Linked DNA regions of Homo sapiens. The protein of the gene in region 2 purifies or fractionates together with the protein of the main gene of each other region. This does not show direct contact. Each region holds a gene or a part of one and is shown on either strand. Other genes may lie near its edges.

The links.
Region 1: the proteins of XPNPEP1 (region 2) and TIPRL fractionate together in Homo sapiens (co-fractionation; 2 studies listed by BioGRID). This does not show direct contact.

The regions. Positions count from the first base shown.
Region 1 is NC_000001.11:168,188,953-168,195,979, reverse strand, and holds part of TIPRL (TIP41-like protein), read right to left. Parts: intron 4,612-7,027; coding exon 4,480-4,611; intron 3,773-4,479; coding exon of another isoform or gene 3,752-3,772; exon of another isoform or gene 3,585-3,751; intron 1-3,584. UniProt on the Homo sapiens protein: May be a allosteric regulator of serine/threonine-protein phosphatase 2A (PP2A). Isoform 1 inhibits catalytic activity of the PP2A(D) core complex in vitro. The PP2A(C):TIPRL complex does not show phosphatase activity.
Region 2 is NC_000010.11:109,864,490-109,871,516, reverse strand, and holds the end of XPNPEP1 (xaa-Pro aminopeptidase 1), read left to right. Parts: intron 1-612; coding exon 613-786; intron 787-1,487; coding exon 1,488-1,564; intron 1,565-2,804; coding exon 2,805-2,903; intron 2,904-3,930; coding exon of another isoform or gene 3,931-3,988; intron 3,989-6,204; coding exon 6,205-6,333; coding exon of another isoform or gene 6,334-6,362; 3' UTR 6,363-6,751; downstream 6,752-7,027. UniProt on the Homo sapiens protein: Metalloaminopeptidase that catalyzes the removal of a penultimate prolyl residue from the N-termini of peptides, such as Arg-Pro-Pro. Contributes to the degradation of bradykinin.

The DNA of each region.
Region 1 (7,027 bases), on a different chromosome or scaffold from region 2:
AATGATAGGCAGAATCAGTGGAGAAAGTATGAAGGTGGGTCCTGGTGGCGGGGAGAGAGCGGTTGAATGGAATGTGAGGTATTTGGGTCTTTAAAATGAATATGTTTAGCTGGCATGGTGGCTCACACCTATAATCACAGCAGTTTGGAAGGTTGAGGTGGAAAGATCACTTGAGCCCAGGAGTTCAAGACCAGCCTGGGCAACAGAGTCAGACCCCATCTCTACAAAAAATACAAAAAATTAGCAAAGCACGGTGGCACAAGCCTGTAGTCCTAGCTACGTGGAAGGCTAAGCTGGGAGGATGGCTTGGGCCTGGGAGATAGGCTGCAGTGAGCCATGATTGTAACACTGCACTCCAGCCTGGGCAACAGAGCAAGACCCTGTCCCAAAATTAATTAATTAATTAAAATGAATATGCTTGGCCATTTGCTGAATAAATACCTATTGTCTACTAACACCAAGTTCTTACTATAGTAAGTCTTGGATTTATATAAATGAAAAAATAGAATCCCAATGCTCAAAAAGGTTATCAGCCAGGGAAAGGTCAAACAGATGTGGTAGCTGCTATAATGGGTATGCACAAGGCTCAATAAGCATTTGAGAAAGAAGTACCTAAGTCTGCTGAAGAACATCAGATAAGACAAGGCTTGAGCTGACCACAGAAAGAACAGCTAGAGATGGGAAGGAGAATTTCAGAAAGGGGACCTGCATGTACAAAAAGTACTGAGACATGAAATAATAACATATATTCAGGGAACTGCCTATAATCTTACATATAAGCACAGGGCTACATTAATGATGAAAGAAGAAATAACAGGATAACCCAGTAATGACAGTGACTTAACTGCCTGGAGAGTCACCAGCCACAGGCCAAATTCTTTTCTGCCTTGGGACCATTACACACCCTCTTCCCTTACCTGGAGTATTCTCCCGGCTAATGTTCACTTGTCCTTCAGATTTCAGTACACATGTCACTTCCACAGAGGGGCCTTTCTTACCATTCCATACCACAATAGATTTATCTTGGTATTCTCTCTCATAGCACTCCATTACGAATTAACGGATTTGTAACTATCTTCATTTATGTTTCCACTTGACTGTAGGCTCCATGGTGGTGGAAATATCTGCTTTGTTCATCACCACATCTCTATTGCTTAGAAAAGTACCTAGCACACAGCAGGTGCTCATTAACCATTTTCCGGATAAAACTGAAGCTAGAAGGTATTAATACCTTTGCTGGAGAAAAGGCTCTGAGCCAAAGTGTATTCTGATGGGGTTATCAGCAACAGACTTAAAAAAAAGACTTTTAGTAAAGGAAAGCTGTAGAAATAACCTGACTTATGACAACTTGATGTCACAACAAATTGAGAAGCACATCATTATTATTTGACATTACTACACAGTGATATGTGTAATTTATGGAAAAACTGACTTGCAACATTTCTTCAAATTTCAAAATTAGTTACCAACAGTCACACTGGACACAACACAGGCAGTAAACTGAAATATCATTTTAGCATGGCACAGTGGAGAGAGTAGGAATTAGGAGACCAGAACTCTAGTGCCAATACAATAGCATATTTTAGGGCAGTAGTTCTTTCCTAGGGGACGTTTGGGAATTTGTGAGAGTACTTTTTCTTGTCACATCAATAAGCAACCAATATCAACAGTTAGTGAATAAGGACCAGAACGACAGATCTGGGATGCACAGGACAATCCTATACAACAAAGTCCAGTCCTGCATTCCACAAAACTTGCAGTATCTTACCAGGCATTCACAGAGGTGAAAAAGCCTACTTATAATGATCTGACTTTAGAAACTATTTCCATTTTACATAGATAATAAAAAAAAAATCACTCAATTATCCAGGAAGTCAACTATTTTCCAAATCAAGGAAAGATTATACTTTTTCTTATTTAGAACTTCACTAAGAGTTGTTCATCATTTTGGAAAATTGTGTTAAGAGTCACTGATTGATACCTTACATCTCTGTCAGCCTACATTTTTTGCTGTCACATTTACGGTGACTCAATATGCAAATATAAGTACCTGACTGCTTCATTATGTCTTTGGTGCAGTCATATTATGCATTTAAGTATTAAAATATATTTTATTCTAAACCAATTTCCTTTAATTTTATAGTTAAAATATGTTGATTGCTGCAAAGTAGGTGGATTAAATCATCTACAAATTTCACTACAGGATAGTAATATCTATGAACTAATACTTCAGCTTAAAGTAGTTGGTTAAAAAAATGCTCTTCAGTTTAAGACTTACTATGTATTCTTGTACACACATATTTATACACATATCCTTTCAAGCAACTCCATCCACAAAACCACATGTGCTTTCCAAATACCGACCCACTTATAGACATGATATATATACCCCCTTGGATACAAATGCACACCCAGGTATGCAAACTCATAATGAACATTTAGCATAGTCAATTCAACAGGTGGTAGACAAGTGGAAAGATACAAGACTAGGTGAACTGAAGAGAGAATAAATCTAAACAAAAAAAAGTGAATTTAGAGTTATAAGTGAGCAAAGAAGTAAAGCCTATGAAAACAACTATCTAATGCTAGAATAATGATATATATTAGATGATACAAAGAAAACTTTGCAATTAGTTTCATGACCTTAAGCTATCTTTTTAGGCCTTATCTATAAAATATGGAGGCTACAAAAAATGATTCTCTAAAAATTCACTACAATTTCAAAATCCTTTGATTCCACCGAAAAAACTAATTTTATTTTTAGATAAGAAAAATAAAATTTTTTATTTATCTAAAAATAAAATTATTTTGTCTCCCAAGCTGGGGTGCAGTGGCACCATCATAGCTCACTGTAGCCTTGACCTCCTGGGCTCAAGCAATCCTCCTGCTTCTGCCTCCCAAGTAGCTAAAATTTGACTTTAAAACAAATCTGTTGCTGCTTTTGTATTATTTTCATTCTTTAAATCACAGCATCCACAATCATTATGCCCCAAGAACAATGTTTGATGTTAGGGTCTCTGTCTTTGACAGATCTCATGACAAATGCTATAATTGAGAGGTTTTTTGTTTGTTTTGTTTGTTTGTTTGTTTGTTTTGAGACGGAGTCTCGCTTGTTGCCCAGGCTGGAGTGCAGTGGCACGATCTCGGCTCACTGCAAGCTCTGCCTTCCGGGTTCACGCCATTCTCCTGCCTCAGCCTCCCGGGTAGCTGGGACTACAGGCGCCCGCCACTGCGCCCAGCTAATTTTTTGTATTTTTAGTAGAGACGGGGTTTCACCATGGTCTCGATCTCCTGACCTCGTGATCCGCCCGCCTCGGCCTCCCAAAGTGCTGGGATTACAGGCATGGGCCACCGCGCCCGGCCTAATTGAGAGGTTTTTAAAAAGGAGTATAGAAAAGAGATATTTAACTCTGTGTAACGGAGTTGTGAAGGGCCTTGTAGAAAAGGTGGTATTTTAGCTGGGTCTTTGGGTCTTAAAGAATGAGGCATTTAGTAAAAAGTTTCAGTTGAGTTATTTCTGGAAAGTATTAGAGACCCAATTATAATGCAGTGGTAAAGAAATATGAATAACCATACTTGTTATGTGTGTTTTCTACTTCTTTTATTTTATTTTATTTTTTTTTTTTGAGACGGAGTCTTGCTCTGTCGCCCAGGCTGGAGGGCTGGAGTGCAGTGGTGCGATCTCAGCTCACTGCAAGCTCCGCCTCCCGGGTTCACGCTTCTCCTGCCTCAGCCTCCCGAGTAGCTGGGACTACAGGTGCCCGCCACCAGGCTGAAAATTGAAGTGGTAGTTGAATGATGCACTGAAATCATAACACATGGATCATTTTAAAAAATGACATCCACCTTGCCGTCTGCAGATCCTATCAACATCATTTTTAATCCAAAATGTGAAAATTAAGCCACAGTCTTCATTAGAGTTAAATAATAAACAAATAAACTACAAGGTGGCCAGGCAGGTCTATTAAAAATGCTTTGCTAAAATAAAGCCTTAAGAATACACAAATATTTTGTGAATTTTATAATGGATATTCAATAAGATACACTCTAGATTCAAGTGAAATTGTACATGACATCATGTTAAAGCTCAGTGTTATTCTTTTTTTTTTTTTTTTTTTTTTGCTCTGTCGCCCAGGCTGGAGTGCAGTGGCGTGATCCTGGCTCACTGCAAGCTCCGCCTCTTGGGTTCACGCTACTCTCCTGCCTCAGCCTCCCGAGTAGCTGGGACTACAGGCGCCCGCCACCATGCCCAGCTAACTTTTTGTGTTTTTAGTAGAGACGGGGTTTCACTGTGTTAGCCAGGATGGTCTCGGTCTCCTGACCTGGCGATCCAGCCCGCCTCAGCCTCTCAAAGTGCTGGGATTACAGGCGTGAGCCACCGCGCCCGGCCAGGCTCAGTGTTATTCAAAGTGAGTCATATTTTTGTCTGATGTTAAGAATGCAAGAAAAATATTAATTTTAAATAAAAATAATACTCACAATCTTCACACTCAGGCTTGAAACTCCATGATCATGAAGTTCATCCTCAAAAAGGAGAACTTCTTCAAAAAACTTAATCTGTTCTCTGGCTTTCAATTTTTCTGTATCTATATGATCTGTTGTAGGTACAACCTGAAAGAAAAAATTTTAAAGAGGAGCACATTAAAAAAAAAGTTGAGGAGCTACAGAGACACAGGAAAGCAGTCTTTTCTTTTCTTTTTCAATCAGTCTTTTCTACATAGCCAGAGCACACAGTTCTAAATTTGGGTGTCATTAGTAGATATAAAAGATCAGAATATGGCTTGATTCTGAAAACTGAAGACATTACAGATGCCCAATATTATAGCTTCACAAAAAAAGCAGTAAAAATTTATCATTTTTCATGCAAGTCATATTAAAATCAACTTCTGTTGTGACTATGAGAAAATTAATCAACTAAACATCAGTCAGTGTGATGAACGACTGCTATCATAGAAGGTCATAGAACATTTGTGCTGTGAAAGCCACTTTTAGGACATTCATATGGAACTTAAAAAATATTTTTCCATTAGAATGTTAGATATTTGCTCAACCTAACTCCCCAAAACCTACAACAAAATAAAGTGCTTTAAATAATGAGGTAAACAAGAACTTGTAGAGAAATTCTGAGGGAAACTCTTAGCATTGCAAAGAGCTTTGAATGAAGTTGGCAATTTTTCAAGGTATTATTTTGTAGCTCTAAGACATGCACACACGTAATCCAACAAAAGCATCAACAGTCCCAAGGCAGATCATATCAGGAGCTCATTAAACTCAAGTGTCTCCTGAGCAGCACCCAAGTATGAATTGTGATACTATTTTCTACCACACCTAATTTCACTACAAAATGCTCAGCTGTTTTACTCCTTGACAGGTTTACCATAAACAAACACAACAATGCTTGTCAAACCATAGATATTTAGTAAATGTAGCTTTACTTAAGCGTCATGATTAGGTGATTTGTTTTGACTCATGGACAAAATTAGCAGATGGAGAGTAATTTGAGATAACTAGATAAGAATCAGAAGAAAATTACAAAGGATGTTGTTTACAAGACTGCACAGATTTTGGGAGGAAATCTAAGGGAACGTTAAGTAATGTAGGGGGAAAAGATGCCATGAAAAGAAAGTGGCAGTTTGTATATGATTTCCAGGAGGTAAAAAAATGTCCATAATTCTTCCATGGTCACTTAGAGATAACACTTAGCCCTAAGCAGTTTTACTTCCAACTGTGTACGGAGCAGGTATAAGGCCACTCTTGAGGTGAAAACTGGGAGGGGAAGGGAGTTGGAGTGTAGGGGCAGGGCATATAACCAGTCCCCTGCATCACACATTAAGTTTATGATCTAGTTAAACAAAAGTTGGTCTGCCAACGAGGACTGCCTAAGGTTACACAACTGAAATTAGTGTTAAATACACACACTTGTAAATTTCGTCCTTTTTATTTGATTTTAGTTCAGAGGAACACATTTTTAACATCCTCCTTATAGATACTCCTGAATCCCCCAAAATTAATCATTATCTGAATTTTCTCATTAGTAAATTGCTTCATTAATGTTTCACATATGCCTTCAGTAAGTGATTGGTCAAAATGAATCTGTCAGTTTTTCCATTTACGTACTTGTTCTTATAAAATGAAAGACAAAGTCAAAAAACAAAGCATGAGTTAGAGATATCATATTTAACTTATTTATGCTATTGTCTCCATTTGCAAGGCTAAATATGTCTAAAACTTTATACTTTTCAGCTCTCTTCCTCAACTCCACATATCTCTCTCTGAACCCAGGGATCTAAAAAATACAACAAAAAAAAAATAACCAGCTAAATATAAAACATATGGGCTGGGCGCGGTGGCTTATGCCTATAATCCCAGCACTTTGGGAGGCAAGGCGGCCGGATCACTTGAGGTCAGGAGTTTGAGACCAGCCTAGCCAATATGGTGAAACCCCATCTCTACTAAAAATACAAAAACTAGCTGATCGTGGTGGCAGGCACCTGTAATCCCAGCTACTCAGGAGGCTGAGGCAGGAGAATCGCTTGAACCCGCGGGGCAGAGGTTGCAGTGAGCTGAGATCACACCATTGCACTCCAGCCTGGGCGACAAGAATGAAACTCTATCTCAAAAAAATAAAAAACATATGGAACAGTATTGGCAGAATAAGTAATCTAGACAAACCTTCTTGATGAAGACAATTTAAAAAGCTGGCTAAAAAAACCCAAAAACTTCCTAAAAGCATCAAATGGCCAAGGCAGTATGGAGTTACTGGGCTGAGATCTGGAAAGACTGGAGCCGAGAAAAGTAAGTCTGTACTTGGCTGGCTTTTGCCCTGAGGCATAGCACTGGCTGATCCAGAGAAGAAGCTGGGCTCTGCTAGCTTTTGGTGCCATCACTGCTCAGTGCTCACTAAGGACAAGGACCCTGGAGAATTTCCTGCTTCCTCCCAAATCAGAGATGACACCCTAAAGAGCTATAGTGATTTCAGAACTTTTTTTTTTTTTTCTTGAGACAGAGTCTCGCTCTGTTGCCCAGG
Region 2 (7,027 bases):
GACAAACCAGATATGAAGGTCACAGGGCCTGAGTGGAAGTTGGTGCAGCCTCCTGTCTGCCCTTTAGTACTGGGCCAGTGCTTCCTTTCGGGATTCTTAGGATTTATTTTACTGGGACCCTGACTTCAGCTATGTACTACTTTGCTTGAGGCCTGGTGGGTGGAGCATTGGACTGGGCATTGACAAGACCTGGGCTGCCTTGCTTTTGGGTAGATTAGACATGTACTCATCTCCCTAGGCCTCAGTTTCCTCATCTGTCATGCCTGCCTGTCTGCTTGCAGTCTGGTTAGAGTCTCATCTTTGTAATTCTGAAACCTTAGGGTCGCAGAGCTGGCAAGGGAACGTCCATGTCTGATACGGCCTCTGTGTGCTGTAGGTGTCTATCCCCGCTCACCAGCATCCTGAATGGATGATCGCCTAGCTTCAGACTGAGCTCTGATGGTTTCTCAGGAGCTCTGATTGTTAGAAAGTTCTTCCTTGTGCTGTGCTGAAATCTGAACCCTCCAGTAACTTACCTATTGGTTTCTGTTTCACGTTCTGGAGCCACACATAATAAATTTAATCTCTAAAGCGCTGTACAAATACAATTAAGTGGCTCTTTATGTCTTTCAGGTCACCTTCTTGACTCCTTTGCCCGTTCAGCTTTATGGGATTCAGGCCTAGATTACTTGCACGGGACTGGACATGGTGTTGGGTCTTTTTTGAATGTCCATGAGGGTCCTTGCGGCATCAGTTACAAAACATTCTCTGATGAGCCCTTGGAGGCAGGCATGATTGTCACTGATGGTAAGTGTCCCTCACATAGAGGGCATGCGTGGATCCTTGAGCCTTTTTGAAAGCTATTCGTTGTTTTGTATTTTTTAATTAGTTTAAAGTAAATTGGCAATACTTTTCCCTTCCAACAAACTTTTCTGATTATAGAACTGATACATGTTCATTTTAGAAAAAATGAGATGGGAACTGTGTAAAAAGAAAATGAAAATCATTTGCAATCTAACCACTCAGGGGAAACATGACTTAGTGTTTTACTGTATTAGCTTTTGGTCTTTCAGGTATGTAGATAGCATTTTTTTTTTAAATCATTGAGATCTTACTGGGCATCTTGTCTTATGTTCTGCTTTCTTACTTGATACATTGCCTTTTCTCAGGTCATTGCCAAGTCTTTGTAAATATATTTTAATGCCTTCATTATTGTGTCTTACGGATGTGAACCATGATTTATTTAGTGGATCCACTGTTACTTTACTCCTTACCCTGTAGCCAGTGTGCAGGGACTTCAGAGTCTAGCTTTCTGCACCTCAAGTGCCTATAAAAAAGTGGCCATATGAGAGAAGGTGGCATCTCTAGGCTCTTACACCAGATAGAGTGGGCTCTTCACCCGTTTCTTCTCCTTTGGAGTAGGGCAGTCATCCAAGGAGTGAAAGTTTCTCTCTGTAGACATCTTCATCGTGGGCTGCTTCTCATTTTTGGGATTTGGTTTGTTTTAGAGCCCGGGTACTATGAAGATGGGGCTTTTGGAATTCGCATTGAGAATGTTGTCCTTGTGGTTCCTGTGAAGACCAAGGTGAGGATTTATTAAAAAAATTTTCCTGTTTCTATTAGCAATAATCACGCCTCGGATAGACCTCATTGGCTACAATACTGCCACTGCGCAAAGCTTAAAAATTTTCCTGTTTCTTAGTGTGGGAAGATGAAGACTTAATGTCTTTGGAGCCAAGAGTATGCCATTCTGGGGCCAACATGGAGCCTTCTTCTCCAGATATCAGGGACTTTCCTGGAAACCACACTCCTTCCCTGCAAAGCCAGAAAGAAAATCCTTAATGAACTGGGATCTAGAACTGGGATTCACAGACCCTCAGGCTGATGCTTGCTTCACATGATTTGGGGCTCTGAGTTTACTATAGGCGGCCTGTTGTCTCTTCTGCTAGGGGTGCCTATTCAAGGCGCTAATTTCCAGGGCCCCTCCCAGACCCTAGAATTTCCAGGGTGGGGGGCCTGGAAGCTGTAATTTTGTCACACTCCCCAGGTGACTTTTATTAGGTAAAGTTGAGGAACCCTGAGTTATCCATGGGTCAGCCTCAAAGGCAATACAAGACAGGTGTTTCACCCTCTTCCCCCATCAGTGTTACCAAGGTTGCAGGGTTTTAGGCTCTAGGCTTTACCTAAAAGACCTGTTTGTGCCTCCTCCATTGGTGGAATTGAACAATTGGAGGGAAGTAGCTTCCTGTGTCTACAAGGAGGTTAACTGCGGGGATCTGCTCTCTGCTTTGGCATGGAAGTCACTATTCTTGGAAGTGACCTCCCATCTTATTCCCAAAAGCTGCCATGAACAGAAACCCGACATGTTCTTGTGTGCTCCAGTGGATAGATGTGTTGTCGCCTGATGGGCCTGGCTGGGTCAAGGCAGACCACACAGTTGACTGTTATAAAAATGATTTTGAGGACTTACACCCCTGCATCCTGGAGAACCAAAACCAGAGATGCCCCTAAGCCCAGATACCCCCATATCCTGCCCCTGTTTCCTATCACAGTAGACATTAGCCTTGGGACCTGTTGCTGGGAGCCCCTCAGCACCCTTTGTTTGGCCTTTCCTGATGGCACAGGCCATTGTTTGCCCAGTGGAGGAGCTCTTGGAAAATGGCATCAGGTTCCTTGTGTGTCTGTGAAAAGTGGTGACCAGCTCACCACTTCTTGGCTCCCAGTTACCCCTGGCTCTGAGGGATGGCATGCTGGTGGAATGACCTCATGGTGCTTCAGCATAGTAAAGAGGAGTAAAAGCATCTGTTTTCTTCTTTCTCCCGCAGTATAATTTTAATAACCGGGGAAGCCTGACCTTTGAACCTCTAACATTGGTTCCAATTCAGACCAAAATGATAGATGTGGATTCTCTTACAGACAAAGAGGTAATGGGGAAGTCTTGGTGGGCAGGCATGTTACTAGGGGAGGTGGAGACTACCTTAAATAGTTCTAATCCATCCTCTAAATCCTAAATTCTCTAATCCAGTCTCACTTTGTAATTTTTAAATTTAGAGGTCTAGGCCAGTTGAGTCTGAAAGCCCTAGGTTTTCTGAGGACTCCTGAGCTTTTCCTGTATTTGTTGGGCCTCCAGGTGGAGATAGTCCTGTTTCCCGCAGCCATTCTGGGGCTGTAGGGTTTGTGGGTGGAACTCGTATGCCATTGTTTGGCTGTACTATTCCTCCATAGCTGCAGTGAGGCGTGTTTAGCAAATATGAGCCTATGTGTGTCCCTACAAAAAGCCAGATGGATGGTGGGGCCTCTTGGCCACTGTACATACCAGATTGTTTTCTTGTGTTACATGAAACATTAAGGAAATGGAAAGCAAAATCTATTATCGTATGTCCTGTTTTCACACAGACAAGGAGAAAGATAGTACCAGCCCTTCTCGGTTACTACTGTGGTCACTCTGGGGCAGTGAAACCCTTCACAAAGCCTGGGGCACAACAGTGCTTACTTGCCCAGCTCAGAGGGTTATGGGTCTTAACTCCTTCAGACCCTGGACTGGTAAGGCCAGGTCAGATGGCAGTCCTGGGGACATGAGAAAGGCCTGAAGAATCACACAGATGTTCAAGGTCAGAGCAGAAACAAGGGTCAGAAATGGGGTAGGAACTGTTAGCACTAGACAGACAAAACAGTTCCCAAACCAGGAAGCTGGAAGCCAGGAGGACACAAATTCCAGAGCAAGGCAGGGGTCAGAAGTTCCAATGAAAAGCAAATGACTGGTGGGAGCCGAAGGCAGGGTAAGCACGGTGGGTTACTCTCGGAATAAGAATATTTTGTTATCTGAGGCAGCCAATGGCCTTTGAGTGCCTCTCAAGGCAGGAACATTTCCTCACTGGCGCCCACTTGGGCCTCGTTCTTGACACTGTAAAGGAAAGGGTCTTTGGGGGTTAAGGACCTTCCCTTCCACAGGAGCTGTGGAATGGGATTCTCCCAGCTAGAAGCCTCTTCTGCCTGTTCCAGTTCACAGGTGGGTGATGAGAAAGTCCATCCACTTCCTGCTTAGCTTTCCTCTGTGCTTGAGCGCCTCTGCTTAACCATCCGTGCCCTTGGTTCAGCTAAACATTCCCACTCACAGGACCCACATGGGCCTTGCTGATACCGGGTGGGTTATGCAGCTTGTAGATGGATATGGAAAAGGAAACTCAGCCTATCAGCACAATGTCTGGTGTGTCTCTTCAGCAGGAAGAGTCCTTCCAGTGTCCAGGGGCTCTTGTCCAGCCCCTGTAAGTGTTGCCTTAGCTGAGAGGAAATGAAAACACATAGGTGGGCATGGGACCCACCCTGCTTAGAATCCCTCTGCCCCATAGGAACCAGTGTCTCTTGTAATGGCCCTTGGGCACAGCTTCCAGGGACTTAGCAAGGGGCTTTCCAGTAATAAGTCATTTCGCACTCTTGGAAGTCCAAGGCTATGGATTCCTGCCAAGTAATTCTAGGTCATGCAGTCCTTCCTGTCCACATAAAGTGTACCCATCAGGAGGCATTTCTCCCATATGACATTCCCCTTTATCCAGGGAAGTAGTATATGAGGAAGTTTAAGCCAGGCCATTTTTCCTCGAAGGAGAATCAGTCTACTCCCGTGACATTGGACATAGACCAGGGATCTGTGTTACCCAGTGTTTCATTGCTGCACCTTGCATGCCCACATGATTGAACTATTCTTTCGGCCAGTTACTCTTTGTAGGGCAGATAATGTCTTCTTAAAATATCTGGCTTTTAAAATATCTGGTCATTTGCCCTTTACTATTTAGCCTTTATTTTGGAGTCACTTTAGGGAGTTTTTGGTTTGGGTCTGCATCGTCATCACTTATCACCAGATGGCAGCAAAGGACCTTGGTCAGATATGAATATGGCCAGCTGCAGACTGTCAGGGCCTTGTGCTGCTCCTCAGGCTCCACCGAGGCTGTCCACACTCCCACTTTTCCCTCCCTACTTCCAACCAAAAGGGCCATGGGCGTTTGGCTGTGGCCCCAGGCTTACACCAGGATGCTGCCGTTGCCTTACTGTTGAGCTGCTTTGGACAGTAGGCTGCTTTGTAGCCCTGCTGGCCTTGCTGTGGACACATAGCAGTTTGCCTGCTTTTGACATCCTCCCCTGCCCCCATCACTTCCCTGACTCCCAGAAGGGGCTACTAGGCTCTTCTCAGTAGGGATTGGAACCCTGGCTGGGTCACAGCCAGTTGGTAACACCACCCTATCTGTCTGCCCTCAGTCCCTTGTAATTAATGGGTTTGTGTGCCCATCCTGACCCCAGCTGGGCTTTGGTACCTGGCTGGATTGTAGTCCCTGAAAGCAGTACTTCTGTAACATCGCTGCCCTCCAAAATGGCCTTTGACTCATTTATGACAAGCACAGCCATGGCACTATCAGTCTCATCAGCTTCCAGACAGCTACCCCCATAGACAGTGATGAGAGTGGCTTGTTGTCCTCTTGGTAAAACCTGCTTCACTCCAGACTTCACCTTTTCCCGTATACAACCAAGGAGGAGAGTTCACCCTTTTTCCTGCCTCAGAGCTTTTGCCATCATGTCTAGTGGATCAGCCCCTGCCCAGGCACCAAGTCCTGCCAGCAGGTCCTTCCTTTCACTCTCTTTTTTGTCTCCTGCTCTTGTGGCATGTTGAGTTGAGAGTCTGAAAACTAAGTTTACTCCCAGCGCCATTCTGCTGCACCACAGTCTTTAACCACCGCAGGTTTTGGGTTCATCTAGGCAGCTACACTCAAAAGACACCCATGGGCTTGGCTGATCCTAGTTTTTTATTCAGCTTTTTCAGTGGATATAGGATATGTAGCCCAGTGTGTTGGCAGGACAGCTTCGAGTGTCTCTCTCAGCAGGAGTTCTCACAGAGTCCGGGGCTATTCCCCCACTTACCACCTCCCAGGATGGCTCAGGTTTAAGGGAATGAAGCCACACAGGTGGGAGCAGGAGCTACTGGCTTAGAGACTGCTGTCTATAATAGTAAACTGTTCTGGGAGCCTTTTCACCAGAAGCCATGAAGTCTGGTCCTATGTATTTCCGGGGAAACAGAACACAAGGAAAATACTTACCTGTGAGTAAGGAGAAAGGGTGTTGCACACCTTTTCTCTCAGCTTGTGATCTTAGCACATGGGGGCCTTTGCTGTTGACCTGTGTAGCCAGTTGTTAAAGATGTAGTGGTGAATACCGTGTCTGTCCTTCTCTTCCCTGCAGTGCGACTGGCTCAACAATTACCACCTGACCTGCAGGGATGTGATTGGGAAGGAATTGCAGAAACAGGGCCGCCAGGAAGCTCTCGAGTGGCTCATCAGAGAGACGCAACCCATCTCCAAACAGCATTAATAAATACCTCCCCGGTTTTGTTTTTGTAAAATGCTCTGGAGGAAGGAAGAAACGTGGCAGATCCCTGACATCTTTCCCCTTTCCTTTCCTTCTTCCCTACCTCCCCTTTTTACTTTAGACTTTAAGAAGAACAGAAAATCTTCTTATCCTCTTTGATATTTTATTGCAAACACTCAGTCTTTTATGATTTTTTAATTGTTGAGAACAAGCCAAGAATAAAATTGCTGCACCAGAAGGAGGGTCCCTCCAAAGTTGAACACTTGGTGAAAGGAAGATGCCCCGACTTCTTTGGCCAGTGATGGGGAATCAGTGAGTGCTCCATGATGGTCATGTTCCAGGTGCTAGTACATCATTCATGATCACCTTAATGCTCATGAGACTATATTTATGATCAGTGAATAAAAATGTCAGAACTGTGCTTTGTCTTAGCTGTCTCTTTCTTCATGGTGCTGTCCCCCGGCATGTCGGGTGAGCTGATCTCCAGGGCTGCTGGCTCTGTGGCAGACATTTCCTAGGTGGAAGGGCCCCTTTGAGAAGAGACCCCTGGCCTCCCCGCACATTTGGGGGCTTAGTTGTAAGCTTTTTCTTTTCTCTAGAAAACCTAATATTATGGTGTTTTTATCTCAGTTTTTTTTCCTGATTTTAAAATATGTCATTCCTATGCAAAAAACAATAAAAATTATGTCAAAAGTCA